Linked DNA regions of Homo sapiens: region 1 is linked to region 2. The links come from fine-mapping of genetic effects on gene expression. A gene starts in region 2. The other region holds a variant in brackets. All regions are shown on one strand. Distances are from middle to middle. Region 1 overlaps RTN4IP1 (reticulon 4 interacting protein 1). Region 2 holds the start of QRSL1 (glutaminyl-tRNA amidotransferase subunit QRSL1).

The links. PIP is the estimated chance that this variant, and not a neighbour inherited with it, causes the effect. A credible set is the group of variants that fine-mapping cannot tell apart.
Region 1: its variant is the best candidate, but not a certain one, in a credible set for the expression of QRSL1 in prefrontal cortex (BrainSeq, PIP 0.56).

What each region holds. Positions count from the first base shown.
Region 1 is chr6:106,591,915-106,599,914 of GRCh38, reverse strand. RTN4IP1 (reticulon 4 interacting protein 1) reads left to right here. Exons shown (of 9, transcript NM_032730.5): 6 at 7,615-7,751. Among named protein-coding and RNA genes, the nearest start is that of RTN4IP1, 34 kb to the left of the region's middle. The variant T/C (reference allele first, on the strand shown) is at 4,283.
Region 2 is chr6:106,624,735-106,633,832 of GRCh38, reverse strand. QRSL1 (glutaminyl-tRNA amidotransferase subunit QRSL1) reads right to left here and starts at 4,255. Exons shown (of 11, transcript NM_018292.5): 1 at 4,128-4,255. The coding sequence starts at 4,151. It overlaps RTN4IP1 (reticulon 4 interacting protein 1), which reads left to right and starts at 4,335. Exons shown (of 9, transcript NM_032730.5): 1 at 4,335-5,085. The coding sequence starts at 4,812. RefSeq lists enhancers at 4,024-4,083, 4,114-4,253.

The DNA of each region.
Region 1 (8,000 bases), 33 kb after region 2:
GATACAGCCACTTAAGAAAACCATTTGGCATCTACTAAATGTCAATATAAATTGTAAAATTTCTAAAAAAAAAAAAAAGGACAGCACAAGAATTCCTATTTTAGGATTATAACCTATAGATAGATATACAAGTATGTTTACCAAAAGATATGTACCAGAATTTCAGAGCAGGGCTATTCCTGTTAAAATTCCCCAACTAGAAAAACCCAAATGTCCATCAACAGTAAAATGAGTAAGTAAATTGTGGTATATTCTTACATTGGAATATTATGCAGTCATGAAAAAACTATAATTGCACACAGTGAAGTGGATGAATACCACAACCGAGTGTTGAGTAAAAGAAATCAGATGCAAAAGTACATCCTATATCGTTCCATTTAATGACATTCAAGAACAAGTGAAACTAAGCAGTGGTGTTTAAGGGTGGTGTCTACTTAGTAAAACTTCTTAAAAAAAAAAAAAAGCAAAAAGGGTTACACTAAAGGTCCAGTTAGTAGTTACTTTTTAAGGGAGTTGAGGAGGTTTTAATTGGGAGGCTTAGGGACACAGGTGGTATTCTAATTCTTAATTTTGAATAGTGGTTATAATAATATTTGCTTTGTAATAATTTGTTAAGCTGTATATTTATATTCTGTATGCTTTTATTTGTATTATATTTTACAACAAAAAATTTTAATAAAATTAAAAAGTAATAGAAAAGCATCAAGGTTAAATCCCATACAAAGCTATTATAAGGAAAGGGAAAATAAGGTATAGAATAACATGCCCTATAATAAAAGCACATCAGAATACATGCCTACAGAACAGCCTGAAATGTCACCTACTATTTCAAAGCAAGTTAAAAGACATTAAAAATATAATACAAGATGTGAAAAAAACAAAATAAATCAGAATAGGAAAAAATCAGGAAAAAAGTAAAACTAAATGAAAAAATCATTTAGTAATAGAAGACTAAACTAAGAGGAACTCAATAGCAAGTAAACACAACACATAATGCTCCTTAATAGAAACAAAATGCATGGATCCCTTCCTTACACCTTATACAAAAATCAATTCAAGATGGATTAAAGATTTAAACGTTAGACCTAAAACCATAAAAACCCTAGAAGAAAACCTAGGCATTACCATTCAGGACATAGGCATGGGCAAGGACTTCATGTCCAAAACACCAAAAGCAATGGCAACAAAAGACAAAATTGACAAATGGGATCTAATTAAACTAAAGAGCTTCTGCACAGCAAAAGAAACTACCATCAGAGTGAACAGGCAGCCTACAACGTGGGAGAAAATTTTCGCAACCTACTCATCTGACAAAGGGCTAATATCCAGAATCTACAATGAACTCAAACAAATTTACAAGGAAAAAACAAACAACCCCATCAAAAAGTGGGCGAAGGACATGAACAGACACTTCTCAAAAGAAGACATTTATGCAGCCAAAAAACACATGAAAAAATGCTCATCATCACTGGCCATCAGAGAAATGCAAATCAAAACCACTATGAGATATCATCTCACACCAGTTAGAATGGCAATCATTAAAAAGTCAGGAAACAACAGGTGCTGGAGAAGATGTGGAGAAATAGGAACACTTTTACACTGTTGGTGGGACTGTAAACTAGTTCAACCATCGTGGAAGTCAGTGTGGCGATTCCTCAGGGATCTAGAGCTAGAAATACCATTTGACCCAGCCATCCCATTACTGGGTATATACCCAAATGACTATAAATCATGCTACTATAAAGACACATGCACACGTATGTTTATTGCGGCATTATTCACAATAGCAAAGACTTGGAACCAACCCAAATGTCCAACAATGATAGACTGGATTAAGAAAATTTGGCACATATACACCATGGAATACTATGCAGCCATAAAAAATGATGAGTTCATGCCCTTTGTAGGGACATGGATGAAATTGGAAATCATCATTCTCAGTAAACTATCGCAAGAACAGAAAACCAAACACCGCATATTCTCACTCATAGGTGGGAATTGAACAATGAGATCACATGGACACAGGAAGGGGAATATCACACTCTGGGGACTGTGGTGGGGTGCGGGGAGCGGGGAGGGATAGCGTTGGGAGATATACCTAATGCTAGATGACGAGTTAGTGGGTGCAGCGCACCAGAATGGCACATGTATACATATGTAACTAACCTGCACAATGTGCACATGTACCCTAAAACTTAAAGTATAATTAAAAAAAAAAAAAAAGAAACAAAATGCAGAAAAAAATTCAAATTACAAAAGAAACAAAAAGATAGGCTGGGCACAGTGGCTCACCCTGTAATCCCAGCACTTTGCTAGGCTGAGGAGGGCAGATTGCTTGAGCTCAGCGATTCAGGACCAGCCTGGGCAACATGGCAAAACCTCGTCTCTACAAAAAATACAAAAATTAGCTGGGCATGGTGGCTCATACCTGTAATCCCAGCTATGGAGAGGCTGAGGTGTGAGGATCACTTGAGCCCAGGAGGTCGAGGCTGCAGTGAGCTGTGATCACACCACTGCACTTCAGCCTGGACAGAGTGAGACCTATCTCAAAAAAACAGAAAAAGATAAAAACAGAGTCAAGAGAAAGTATCAAATATTGATGACAGGCAAGGAAAATTGATATATGGATACTAGGAGTCCTCGAAGGGGAAAACCAAAGCAAGGGAATTGAACCCATATTAAAACAATAATTAAAGAAACTTTCCTACTGTCCTGAAATTAAATGATTTGAAATTACATATTGAATAGACACATCACTTTTCTAAGGACATGGACCCAGACTGAGCAACACTAAGGAAAATTACTAATAAAAATGTGGAGAAAAATTATAGTGAAATTACTGGCCTTTAAAGAAAAAAGAAATAAGATCCTTTGGAAATCTAGACAAAATAGCACATGTGCTACTTATGTGTCCATATAAGAAAAAAGATGACGTGACTTATAAGAGAAATAAAATTAGACTATCATGAGACTTTTTGGCAGTAACACTTTTGGCAGAAAAAAATGGAGTAACATATTTAAGATACTCAAGGAAGAGTGCGCCAAGAATCTTTTATACAACAAAACAGGCCTTCAGGTATCATGGACACATACAGACTGTTATCAACATGAAGAACGTGGGGAATATTGTTCTTCTGATCCTTTTCTGAGGAATCTACTAGATAATGAGCTTCTGACTAGGAATGACTATGAAGACATTTTAAGGACTAGTGGTAAATGTTCAACACAATTACCTGTAGAACAAAACTAAATGAGGGCTTAGAAGGAGAGAGTGTAGGAACAGCCATATGTTCTGATAAGGTAAATACAGTGCAATAGTTGTCATTATTTTTGAGACAGTGTGTTGCTCTGTCATCCAGGCTGAGATGCAGTGACATGATCACAGCTCACTGCAACCTCAACCTCCTGGGCTCAATGATCCTCTCACCCCAAACTCCTGAGTAGGTAGAACTACAGGCACATGCCACCATGCCCAGCTAATTTTTTCACGTTTTTGTAGCGATGGGGTCTTGCTGTGTTGCCTGGGCTGGTCTCAAATTCCTGGCCTCAAGCAACCTTCCTGCCTCAGCCTCCCAAAGTGCTGGGATTTTGTAGTCTCAAATTAGAATTGGAAGTATCAATATGAACTCAAGAGATATTTTGTGTATGTGTGTATGTAAAGCCATCACTTGAAATATCATTTCTCACTGAAACAAGGCAGGGCTTCTTAGAGAAGTAGCTGATTTCAGATCTAGAGCACAAATATAAAGAATTAACCTGGAGTATATTAAATAGCAAGGAAGATATCAAAGACTAGTCAGGTCATGTCAAAAGACTCAAGAGCTAACTTGAAGAAATGCCCAAAGATGTAACAGTTTGAGCTTCAGTAATAATAATGACCATTACAATGGGTTGAAACCTTTTAAATATATTTAAATCCATGAGTTCATGATACTTTTTTCAAAAGAGGTCACTTTTGGAATTTGATAGGGAACCAATTTATTATCTTATAAACTGATAAAGAAAAACAGTTAAGCATTTGTCTTGCCTTTCCTACATTAACTGTATAATTGAGCAGACAAAATAATATGTGAGGGGCAGTGATATGAGGGGCAGTGTTATTTTGTGAAAGTATTCAGGCTGGACGCGTTGGCTCATGCCTGTAATCTCAGCACTTTGGGATGCCAAGGCGGGCAGATCACCTCAGGTCAAGGGTTCCAGACCAGCCTGGCCAACATGGCGAAACCCCTTCTCTAATAAAAATACAAGAATTAGCCGGGCGTGGTGGTGGGCACCTGTAATC[T/C]CAGCTACTCGGGAGGCTGAGGCAGGAGAATTGCTTGAACCTAGGAGGCAGAGGTTGCAGTGGGCAGAGATCACGCCACTGCACTCTAGCCTGGGACAGAGCGAGACTGTCCCCCACAAAAAAAAAAAAAAAGAAAGAAAGTATTCCAACTACTTAAATAAAAGAAGTAGAATTAGAAGATCACTATTTCGCAACCACCAATAAGCAGATATGGGTATTAAGCATTGACAGCTGCTAAGATAATAAAGAGAGCCTCAAGCAGACATGATGTGCCTCCTCTAGTTTTGCCAGACACTGTCCATAGTTTTGCTAAAGGGATTGAAATGGAATCAGATCTAGTCTCCAGATCCATCTGCCGAGTTGCAGAAAATACAGAGGACAGAGCGACGTGTGGAACTGTCCCGTGGGTGTGCAGTTAGAAATTCCAGACTGTGGGAAACTCCACAGATCAAATGGCCTAGATTCTTCCATAGATAAATTATAGGAAAGCAAAGGGATAGAACAGGAGCCTATGATTTAAAAGAGACTTAAGGCCGGGCACAGTGGCTCACACCTGTAATCCCAGCATTTTGGGAGGCCAAGGCGGGTGGATCACGTGAGCTCAGGAGTTCAAGACCAGCCTGGCCAACCTGGTGAAATCCCATATCTACTAAAAATACAAAAATTAGCCAGGCGTGGTGTGACGTGCCTGTAGTGCCAGCTACTCGGGAGGCTGAGGGCAGGAGAATCACCTGAACCTGGGAGGTGGAGGTTGCAGTGAGCCGAGATCATGCCACTGCACTCTAGCCTGGGCAACAGAGTGAGACTGTCTCAAATAAAAAACCAAAACAACCCAAAAATAAATAATAAAAAAAGAGATTTAAAAGATACCACGTTTTAAGAATGCACAAGACTATAGTGTCTAGAGACTGCATTGTTGGGTGATAAACTTTTTGAAATGCAAGGAGGTGATTACTATAAAAATCAGAATAATTATTTTGGGAAAGGGTAGGAGGGGCTTCTGTGGTTTGGGGCACATGGGAGAATTTTTGGCATAGCTTCCAGTGTGCTGCTGCTTTATCTGGGTGGTGTTCACCCTATAGCTGTTTTCTTTCTTTCTTTCTTTTTTTGTTTTTTGTTTTTTGAGACAGAATCTCACTCTGTCACCCAGGCTGGAGTGCAGTGGTACGACCTTGGCTTACTGCAACCTCCACCCCCGCCGGCTCAAGCGATCCTCCCACTTCAGCCTCCTGAGTAGCTGGGACCACAGGCATGCATCACCAGGCCCAGCTACTTTTTTGTATTTTTAGTAGAGACGGGGTTTCACTACGTTGCCTAGGCAGGTCTCAGACTCCTGAGCTCAAGTGATCCATCCATTTCAGCCTCCCAAAGTGCTGCGATTACAGGTATGAGCCACCACACCCCGTCTATAGGTGTTTTCTATAGTTGTGTTTTATATTACATGAAAAATTTTTATTAAGTAAAACTGTTTTTAAAACATTTTCATAATGTTCAAAGATAATAAATAGCTCTAAATGGGAAAGGAAAAACTAGAAATTTGAGGGGAAAAACCAGAAATTTGAGGAAAAAAACCTGTTTCAACATGTGACAGATTCTTCCTGAGGATTTAATACTGTTTAAAGAAAAACATGTATTAAATGTGGGTGCTTAGAACATACTTTTCTTTTTCCTCAATAGTTTCTTTTTTAATATAGGTATAGAGAAAGGATGGTCACAATGAGCTATTCATCTTGGATTATATTCTTCACATATTTGAATTTGATTTGGGACTTGCTGTGAAAAGCAACGTATCATTACACTCAAGTGTCTCTGTTTGCAGCCCATAAACAATAAATTGTATATCATATCACTCCTAAATATTTCAATTCCCCACAGATTTTCAGGATATATAAGTCTTTGGTCAATGTTGCTTTTTAAAAGTGAGAAATTGGGTAAGATTATGAATAAGTTAAAAACCCTTTATTTACATTTTGTATTTAACAGAAATTTACTAAGCACCTTTGTGTGCCATGGAGTAGGGATTCAATAGTGAACCAGACAAACACAGATCCCTTGTATTCTAGTGAGCCTTTATATCTTATATTAAGGAAGTTCAGGAAATTGATACTTAGGACAAGATTGAGAAAACAAGTGATCTCTTATGATCTATAATTATCTGCACAAAAATTTCTTAGTAATCTTCAAGTGGCTATTCTCAAATTAGCTGAAAATAGCCCCCTTTTAAGTCTATGAAATTAACATTATAGAAAAGAATTTTAGCAATTTTGGAGCAGAATGCTTTCTGGATACTTAATTCTGAATAACATTAGAATTTAGCTCTCCTTTTAATTTAAATCTAGTTATTCTTTATTATTTTAAAATATAAGGCATCTGCATTTTAAAACCTGGGTAACATTTATTTAGGTTTTCTTACTCCAAGGGAGAGGACCTGATCCAAGTTTTTAAGAAAAAATGATTATAGTTTCTTCCCCTTCTTTTTAAGAGAACCTTTTCATATGTTACCTATTACTTAATAGCTCATTACTTTGACACGCTTTCTGATTCAATATTGTGTTAACACTTATTAGAGATGCAAATGAAGATATGTGGCATTTTAATGTTCTGTATACATTTTAAATAGTCATTTTTCTGAAGACATACTATTTTTGGGCCATTTAACTTTGCTATCCTTGAAAGTGCTAAATTTGAGGCTTTTTTTTTTTTGAGATGAAGTCTCACTCTTGTACCCCAGGCTGGAGTGCGATGGCACGATCTTGGCTCACTGCAACCTCTGCCTCCGGGGTTCAAGCGATTCTCCTGCCTTGGCCACCCAAGTAGCTGGGATTACAGGTGCCCGCCCGCTACCATGTCCAGCTAATTTTTTATATTTTTAGTAGAGACGGGGTTTCACCATGTTGGCCAGGCTGGTCTCGAACTCCTGACCTCAGGTGATCCACCTGTCTCGGCCTCCCAAAGTGCTGGGATTACAGGCGTGAGCCACCGCACTTGGCAAATTTGAGGCTTTCAACTCCTGTCTTTTCTGTTACTGTTGAGGCACTGAGTCCCTCTCTAAGTGGATTAGTTATAACTTCATGACAATAAGGTGGCTGGCTGTCTCATGTAGGGAAAATGAGATCTCTTTCTTGGGATTTTCTTACTGAACAAAAGTTTGACCATTTTTACTAGTCTCTGACAGATGGCTTCCTATAGTTCTGGTTAAGATGACGTACTTAAAGTTCTCTAGAGATTAGTCTGATATATGTATACATGGTGCCAATGATTTTTTTTTCAATGCAGTCAGTTTTTCTAATCTCTCCCTTTTTTATTCTTTTTTTCTTTTTGGTGGGGGGCAGGTAATGAAAGCATGGGATGCTCATGTGACAGCAGTTTGCTCCCAAGATGCCAGTGAACTTGTAAGGAAGCTTGGTGCAGACGATGTAATTGATTACAAATCTGGAAGTGTGGAAGAGCAGTTGAAATCCTTAAAACCGTATGTATTAGAACAATGTTCACACTGGGAGTGGGAACAAGGACAGTTGATTATGCAGGTCTGAGATGGCTTGGTGGCTTTACAATCATGTTGGAATCTTGAGAAGGATCTATGAAAACATTCCATGTCACTAGAAGTTACTTAGGTTGGCTTCTGTTTTAATTCCAGATGTTAATACAACACAGTAACAGCATGTGGATAGGCACTGAGGAAGTTATTTTGCTTACATGGTCTTTGCTAATTTTTAAG
Region 2 (9,098 bases):
TTAGTTGAATGAATAACAGTTGTTTAAAATTTAGAATCGATTTCCCTATAGAACAATGATTAGTTTTTCTAAAGTTGAAGCTCCAAGAAGCCAAATGAATATATCATTCTTTAAACTTTAGGATTAATAATATTAGCCTGGTGCCTCACTCCTAGAAACACTGGGATCATGCCACAAAAGACAAAGGTAAAAGTGAGATTTCCTCCCCCTTTCTGAATGTACTTGGGTAAAATTTACAAATGGGAATTTTACCTATTTGGCATTTTACCTCCTTTTTGTGCCTATTCCCAGGACTCCTGTTACCATAAGCTTCCACTCACATCCCCCAAATTGCTGCCATCATTTCCAGCCCTTCTCCCTAATTCCCCGCAAATTTCCCCCTCTTCAACTGATTATCTCAATTAAGGTATTATGAAGAAATTTGAACTGTTATAATTTACAACAATGGGTGGAAAAATTGTTCAACCTTCCCAGGCATCTGTACATATTTAAAAGAGAATTAAATTAAAAGATAATTTGTATGAATTAATTAATCTCTAATTGGTAGAATTTAGGGCAACAGTACAGTGATGTGGAAAAAATACAAAGTAGACAGAAGGTAGTTTTAGAGCTGGGGAAATAACCACCAAATATTTTGCATGCTAGGCATTAATCAGTATTTGTTAAAGGAGTGATAAAGTAAAAGCAATCATGCCAAGGCAACCTCTGGATTTTCCCCTGGGTCAGCTCTCCTAAATAGTTCTTTTCTCCCCCCATGCGGCAAAAGTTGTTTTTCACAATGGCTAACTCAATGACACCAGAGAGAAGTAGCACTAAAAAAGGTAGCACTTAAGGAGCTATGACAGTTGTCAAAATCAAAATAGAGTGACTTGTGTTAAAATCCTGACAAATGGAGCCAAGGAAGGTCAAGAAGAGAGGGTTCTCACGCATGAATGCCTGATAAGAAGAACTATCACACTCCAGCTGACAAGGGATTGATAACCGAAGTATATAAGGAGTTCAAACAACTCAACAGGAAAAAATCCAATAATCAAATTAAAAATGGGCAAAAGATTGGAATAGACATTTCTCAAAAGAAAGACATATAAATGGCAAACTGGTATATGAAAATGTGCTCAACATCACTGATCATCAGAGAATTGCAAATCAAAACTACAATGAGATATCATCTCACTCCAGTTAAAATAGCTTCTATCCAAAAGACAGGCAATAATGAATGCTGGTGAGGATGGAGAAAAGTTGGATGAAATGTAAATTACTACAGCCACTATGGAGAATAGTATGGAGGTGCCTTAAAAACCTAAAAATAGAACTACTGGTTGGGCACAGTGGCTCACACCTGTAATCCTAGCACTTTGGGAGGCTGAGGGAGGAGGATTGCTTGAAGCCAAGAATTCAAGACCAACCTGGCCAACATAGTGAGACCCCATCTCTAAAAAAAAAATAATTAAAAATAAATAAATAAAAATAGAACTACCATACGATCCAGCAATCCCACTGCTACGTATATATGCACCTAAAAGAAAGAAAATCAACATAGCAAAGACATATCTGCTCTCTCATGTTTATTGCAGCACTATTCACAATAGCCAAGATTTGAAAGCAAGCTAAGTATCTACCAACAGATGAATGGATAGAGAAAATGTCCTACATGTACACAATGGAGTACTATTCAGCCATAAAAAGAACGAGAGCTTGTCAATTGCAACAACATGGATGGAACTGGAGGGCATTATGTTAAGTGAAATAAGCCAGGCACAGAAAGACAAACTTCCCATGTTCTCACCTATTTGTGGGAGCTAAAAATGAAAACAATTGACCTCGTGGAGGTAGAGTAGAATGATGGTTACTAGAGGCCTGAAAGGGTAGTAGTAGGGGTGGGAAGTGGGGATGGGTAATGGGTACAAAATATAGTTAGACAGAATGAATAAGATACAGTATTTGATAGCACAGCAGGTGATTACAGTCAACAATAGTTTATTGTACGTTTAAAAATAACTAAAAGAGTATAACTGGAACGTTTGTAACACAAAGAAATGATAAATGCTTGAGGTGATGGATACACCATTTACTCTGATGTGATTATTATGCATTGTATGCCTGTATCAAAATATCTCATGTGCCCCATAAATACATACACCTACTATGTACCCATTAAAATTTTTTTTTAAAAACAATCATAAGACTGCAAAAAACACAACCTTGCACAAAGGCCATTGCAACCTTCCACACACACGAGTACTTCTGTAAGAATGTCTGTCCAGCAACTGGCCATCCAACCTTGGACTGATGCCACCTTTGTGACTGATCCTTGTGGCCAAGGATAACTGATTCAAAATAATTTAAGTAATCCTTCTCATTCTGTCTTTAAAAACATCCCTTGCCTCAACCTTCTTGAATAGGCACATAGTTTACAATATTACACATATTCCCATTGCATTGCTACTCCAAAATAAATATTTTCTTTAGAGTCTCTTTCTGTTACTTAGATTGACAGTGGAAAAGGCAGAAAAAGGAAATAACATATTTTTATAGGTTGTATTTAATTTTAAAACAAGTTTTGGGTGTTGTCTGTTTATTTATTTTTATTTTATTTATTTATTTTTTGAGACGGAGTCTTGCTCTGCCGCCCAGGCTGGAGTGCAGTGGCGTGATCTTGGCTCACTGCAAGCTCCGCCTCCCGGGTTCACGCCATTCTCCTGCCTCAGCCTCCCGAGTAGCTGGGACTACAGGCGCCCGCCACTACGCCCGGCTAATTTTTTGTATATTTAGTAGAAATGGGGTTTCACCGTGTTAGCCAGGATGGTCTCGATCTCCTGACCTCGTGATCCACCCGCCTCGGCCTCCCAAAGTGCTGGGATTACAGGCGTGAGCCACCGCGCCGGGCATATTTATTTTTTAAAGAACAAATTTGATTCGACGCAATTTAAAATGATAACATAATAATGTATTTTGGGGGAAGAACTATTATTTAAAGCCTGTGGATTTCAATTTCTCATTATATATTACAGCTATCTATAATTATAATTCCACGCTGCCAGCTGGGAAACAAACAAAACGACAACTTCTAGGGTGGAATAAAAAGGAAGATGGAAGGCAGTTTAGGTCATCAGCGCCTACTTCTTACCAGAAATCACCTGGAGCCTCCATTAAACCATACTCCCGAACTTACCACACAGCTCTAATTAAGTCTAGAGTGGGGCATAGTTTTAGTTTCAACAGGTGCTTTATGTGACTCTGATAGCAATGGGCCTGCAGACAGTTCTAAGGTTGAGTGACGTGAACCAGGAAGCAAAAAGACCCGAATTAAAGCTATAACAGCAGAAATAACGTAAGAGGGCAGATTCCAGCCATATCTGCAAGATAGAATGAAGAGGGCTTAGTGATTTATTGGATATGAAAGATGAGGAAGAATCTAAAGGCAAATGAGATAATAGTTGTGCCATTAAAAAGAGTCTATTAAGAATTCAGAAATACCAGAGCTTTTTTAAGACGGGGGTTGAGAGGTAAGTCCTGTTACAATGATTACTTCAACACCGATTAAAGTGAATTTGAGGGTGCTTATGTGACATTTAGAAGAACTGCCCAGAAAGCATTCACAAATACAGTCTAGAATTCAAACACGACGTCCAGGACATGGAGACACGGGTTAGGAAATCACTGGTATCTTAGTGGTAGGTAAATCCTAGAGAACGAATTCTTTGAAAAAAGCCAAAAATTACTCATTTGAATTTTGCAAACTACAGTTTCGCCGGGCTTCTTAGCGACAACTGCAGCTAAGTGTCGGGGACAGAAGAGAGACTGAAGTGGCCCCGCAAGCCCCCTTTGGCAAAGCCCACTCCGAGACCATCCGGATCCCGACCTACACCAGAGCAAATGTCTAATGGTGAGAAGCCGCTTCACCACCCTACAGATCCGCGGTGCAGAGATTTCCCTGCTAAGGTCCTAACTCCTGAATGGGTACGGCGAGTACACCCGAAGAATCGAAAGGTACTTATCCCCCACTCAGTTCTAGAGGAAGCAGCGAGGTGGGCCAAGATGCGTGGTAAGGCCCAGGGACTCTTTGTCAACGAAGTCCGTTAAACTTTCCGCCCTCCCGGGGGCCTCAGCGGGCCAATTCCACTCACTTCTCGGAGGCTCCGGCCCAGCATGGTCCTCGTGCCCAGCCTGCCACCACAGGAGCCAGGCAAGGGGGAAAAAGAGGTCACCGGTCGCTAGTGATGTTACATGGGCGCAGCCATCTTTAATTGTCACTGAGCCCTTCAACACCGAGTACTTGGATTGGTTGAATTGCAGCCCGAGGAAATGATCTTTGTAGGCGATTGGTTGGCGCCGCAAAGCCATCCCGGCGGCTAAGGAGAGCGGGCAGGCAAGGAGATTCCGGGCCAGGGTCGCGGCGGCAGTCGGCAAGCGTTCGATTCTCTGGCGTTGGATCGCGAGCGGTGTCTGCTTGTCCCGCCGAGGGCTCCCAGGACAGGGCAGGGATCTAGGGGGTTTGCGCACCTGCTTTTTAATGCCCCGCCCCCCCTTTTTTTTTTAAAGTGGAGGGGGTGAAAGTGAGGGAGGAGAATGGACAGAATACTGACTGGAACGTTAATTCGAGCATTTCATATGCGAAGAGCGGAATAACAGTTCCGTATTCTTCTTTCAGTTTCTCCATTAGATTAGCTTCATTTTCGAATGCTCCGTTTTGCATGCTTAATTTTGAAACTAGCCCGTGGTTTGGCAGAATTTGACTGAATTCAGGGGTGAGAGTTTGATCCAGTCCAAGTGTATTTGAATTTGAGCACGCAGTTCAACCAGTGTTTACAATGGAATTTCTGAAGACTTGTGTACTTAGAAGAAATGCATGCACTGCGGTTTGCTTCTGGAGAAGCAAAGTTGTCCAAAAGCCTTCAGTTAGAAGGATTAGTACTACCTCTCCTAGGAGCACTGTCATGCCTGCTTGGGTGATAGATAAATATGGGAAGAATGAAGTGCTTCGATTCACTCAGAACATGATGATGCCTATCATACACTATCCAAATGAAGTCATTGTCAAAGTTCACGCTGCCAGTGTAAATCCTATAGACGTTAATATGAGAAGTAAGTTTTCAAAAGACATTGTTACCTTTTTTAAAAAAATCACTTTCATAAGGTATGCCGTTTTAAAAAATTGACTACGCTTCTTTGGTTTACATAAATGAATCATTTAGGTTTTTAACAATACCTCTGCAAATATTTCCAAAATTTTTGAAATTGCAATGGCCAGGGAATCCTTCTGGCCATTTGTATTGACAAAATATAAGCTTGATTGTTTTCATGCGTCCTTAAATATGTAAGTTCAGACTTGAGAACTGTGTCTGTAGCTAACTTTTTTTTTTTTGAGACTGAGTCTCACTCTGTCACCCAGGCTAGAGTGCGGTGGCCTGATCTCAGCTCACTGCAACCTCCGCATCCTGGGTTCAAGCAATTTCTCCTGCCTCAGCCTCCCGAGTAGCTGGGATTACAGGCGCATGCCACCACACCGGGCTAATTTTTTGTATTTTTAGTAGAGATGGGGTTTCACTATGTTGGTCAGGCTGGTCTCGAACTCCTGACCTCAGGCGATCCTCTGCCTCCGCCCCCTAAGTGCTGGGATTACAGACGAGCCATTGCGCCCTGCCTATGTTTGTAGCTAAATTTCTGTCCAGGGAACTTTGTGGTATTCTGAGATCCGTCACAGGCTTCGGAAGTATAGTTGTTTCCTAGTCAGTTTAGAATTTATGGGGTTTTTTGTTTGTTTTTGAGACAGAGTCTCACTCTATCGGCAGGCTGGAGTGCAAGGGCGCTTTCCTGGCTCACTGCAACCTCCGCCTTCCGGGTTCAAGCGATTCTCCTGCTTCAGCCTCCCAAGTAGCTGGGACTACAGACATGCGCCGCCACACCCAGCTAATTTTTGTATTTTTATAGAAACGGGAGTTTCACTGTGTTGGTGGGAGGCTGAGGCAGGAGAATCGCTTGAATCCGGAAGGCGGAGGTTGCAGTGAGCCAAGAACGCGCCCTTGCACTCCAGCCTGCCGATAGAGTGAGACTCCATCTCAAAAAAAAAAAAAAAAAAAAAAAAAAAAGCATTGAAATGACTTTACTGTGATTGTCTCATGAAGTCTACGTTTGTATTCTTTGTTTTGAAGTAGTAATTGCTACTACCAGTTGGGCATGCCGTTTTCCTTTATTCTTTTTATATTAGGCTTGAAGAGAATTCAGTTTTTTATAAGATATGTCTTTTAGTGGTAAGTTTTACTCAATGATCAGCATGTTTTTTCATCTCCTTTGATTGTAAGTTCTTTCAAGATTGATCCCATGCTTTGTCAACCTGTTTCAGTGCTTCACATACGCAGTTGTCATTCAGTCACTATTTCTATGCCTTTTTATATTTTTGTTCTGACTTAAGATAACAAACTTAAATTAGCAGTATTTTATCTATGAGTAATTTTTACATTTTGTCTTCGTTTAGGTCTGTTAGCTTTTTATTTCTTTAAATGCACATGCGTAATTCATGCCGTGTACATTTTCATTTAAACAGAATGGCTGTATCTAGACTTTTCTTGGCTGCTGTTTAATAATATAACACTGTAAAACATTTTACTTTTATATAGTATTCTTGAAACATCTTAGTTTTTTATGACTTGAATGGGTAATATTATTCGCAAGTTATCCTCTTTTTTTTTTTCTCCTACCTTTTGAGGATATTTATTGTCATTGCAGAAGATATCTGAAACAGTAGCTTGGGGAAATAAAATAATGAGTAGAAGACTGTAAACTGTAGGAAGCAGTTATTTCCCTTGGCAAGAAAGCAAGAGACATGTCTATTTTATTTGAAAGATGAAGGCTGGCTGTTTTTCTGGAGACGGCCACTACTGTTGGACGTAAAATAATAAATCATAGAAATGGCTAAAGAAATGAAGAATTTTTACATGGGGAAAAAATGCAGCCAACAGCATCATACCAACAAAGTTTGGTGTCTTTAGATGGGATTAAAGTCTTTAAACTGATGACAGATTTAGGATTTTTCAAATTGGCCCAACTCTCTGAACAAGTCAAGGTGTCAACCCCTGTCAATAGGATGGAACACTTAAGGGCCCCATTCAGTCATCCGTGTCACCAAACAGGTTCTCAATTACTAACTGCCAGCTGACTACATTCTGGGTTCAGGGGCTTGTTAGATAGTAACAGTGAGCCAAGGCTACTCAGTTGATGTATTAGCATTATCAGGGGACCAAGAAAACTAAAAACAACCTTGGGCTGCAGGCTCTGTATCTCAAAGAGGACTGAAACCTTTCTGCAGCTCTTAAACAGCAGCTAAAGTTTGACACGACTAAATGTCCACTTCTGTTGTTCAAACCACATAGAAGTTTCAGTGAATAATTGTTTAATTATCTTTAGCAGTGGAAAAGGAATGTAAGGCAGGAAAAGTGAAGCACATGACTTTTGTGAATATTACAAGTGAAGTTGTTTTTTTTTTCCCTGACAGAGTATAATCCTGACTCCCCAGATGGCAAATGTTGTAATGTTGGTATAATGGCCATCAGCTTAGATTTTCTGGGACTTTCCCACCTTTCAAACACTTTATCCCATGTGTCTTGATTTTTTATTAGTAACACAACTCATGCAAGCTACCCACCTGTCAGCATCTCTCTCGGTATCTTCTACCTTCCCTCCTGCTGTATGGATTAGCTGTCACTGCTTTCACATAAGGCCAGCCCTCGGCTTGTGTTTCTGATCCCATCCCCCTCACCTACTCTGGGATATCATTCCGGCAGGTGTCTCCTGCATCATCAGTCTTTTCTTTTCTACTGGATCATCTCCATTAGTATACAGACTTGCTGTTATTTCTCCTTTCTTAAGAAGAAGGAAAAGGCTGGGCACAGTGGCTCACACCTGTAATTCCAGCACTTTGGGAGGCCGAGGCAGGTGGATCACCTGAGATCAGGAGTTCGAGACCATCCTGATCAACATGGAGAAACCCCGTCTCTACTAAAAATTAGCCAGGCGTGGTGGCGCATGCCTGTAATCCCAGCTACTCAGGAGGCTGAGACAGCAGAATCGCTTGAACCCGGGAGGCGGAAGTTGCAGTGAGCCGAGATCACGCCATTGCACTCCAGCCTGGGCAACAGAGCAAGACTCTGTCTCAAAAAAAAAAAAAAAAAAAAGAAAAAAAAGAAAAAAGCCACTCAAAAGTCCTCTGTCCATCCCAGTTCCCACTTCGAGCTACTGCTCCATTTCTCTGCTCCCTTTGCAACAAAACTGTTTTAAAGAGAGTTCAGTCTTCTCATGTCTCCAGTCCCTTATTTCCCATTCTCTCAAAAGTGCACTACACAGCAGTTGCTCCTGGCAGGGTTACCAAAGGTCTGTTAGATCCAGGCTTGTTTGTTTGTTTTAAAGCCTCTTAGCATCTTTGGACCTTATTTGAAAACCTGTCTCCCGTCAGCAGCATTGAATGTCTTTAAACTGCCGCCTTAGTCTCCTTTGCTGCTTTCTCCTCATCCCTAAGATCTAATGGATTGCCCACAGGAGTGGGTGCGGGGCAAGGGGAGACGTACAGAGTGGGTTAGTGACTGTGGAGCATGCGTTGTGGGGCAGGGAGTGAGTGGTACATGACACTGGAGAGGTAGGCAGGGTGCCTATCATGGAAAGCCTCACATGGCAGACAGGTTCTCAAAAAAAGGTCAAGCAGAAGAGAGAATAACAGATACTTTTGGGTCTGAGAAAAGTCACGTTGTATATGGAAGCCATGTAATAAATTACTCTGGATTATTATAGAGTAGCAAATTTACTTGAACCAAAAAATTAAAAGAATGTTTTCAGTTTTATTTAGCTGATATTTATATAAGTATTCTTTTTCTTTTTCTTTTTCTTTTTCTTTTTTTTTTTTTTTTGAGACAGAGCTTTGCTTTGTCACCTGGGCTGGAGTGCAGTGGTGTGATCATGGCTCACTGCAGTCTCAAACTCCTGGGCTCAAGCAATCCTCCTGCCTCAGCCTCCTGAGTAGCTGGGATTACAGGCATGTACCACTATGCCTGGCTAATTTTTAAAATTTTTAGTAGAGATGAGCTCTAGGCTGGTTTTGAACTCCTGAA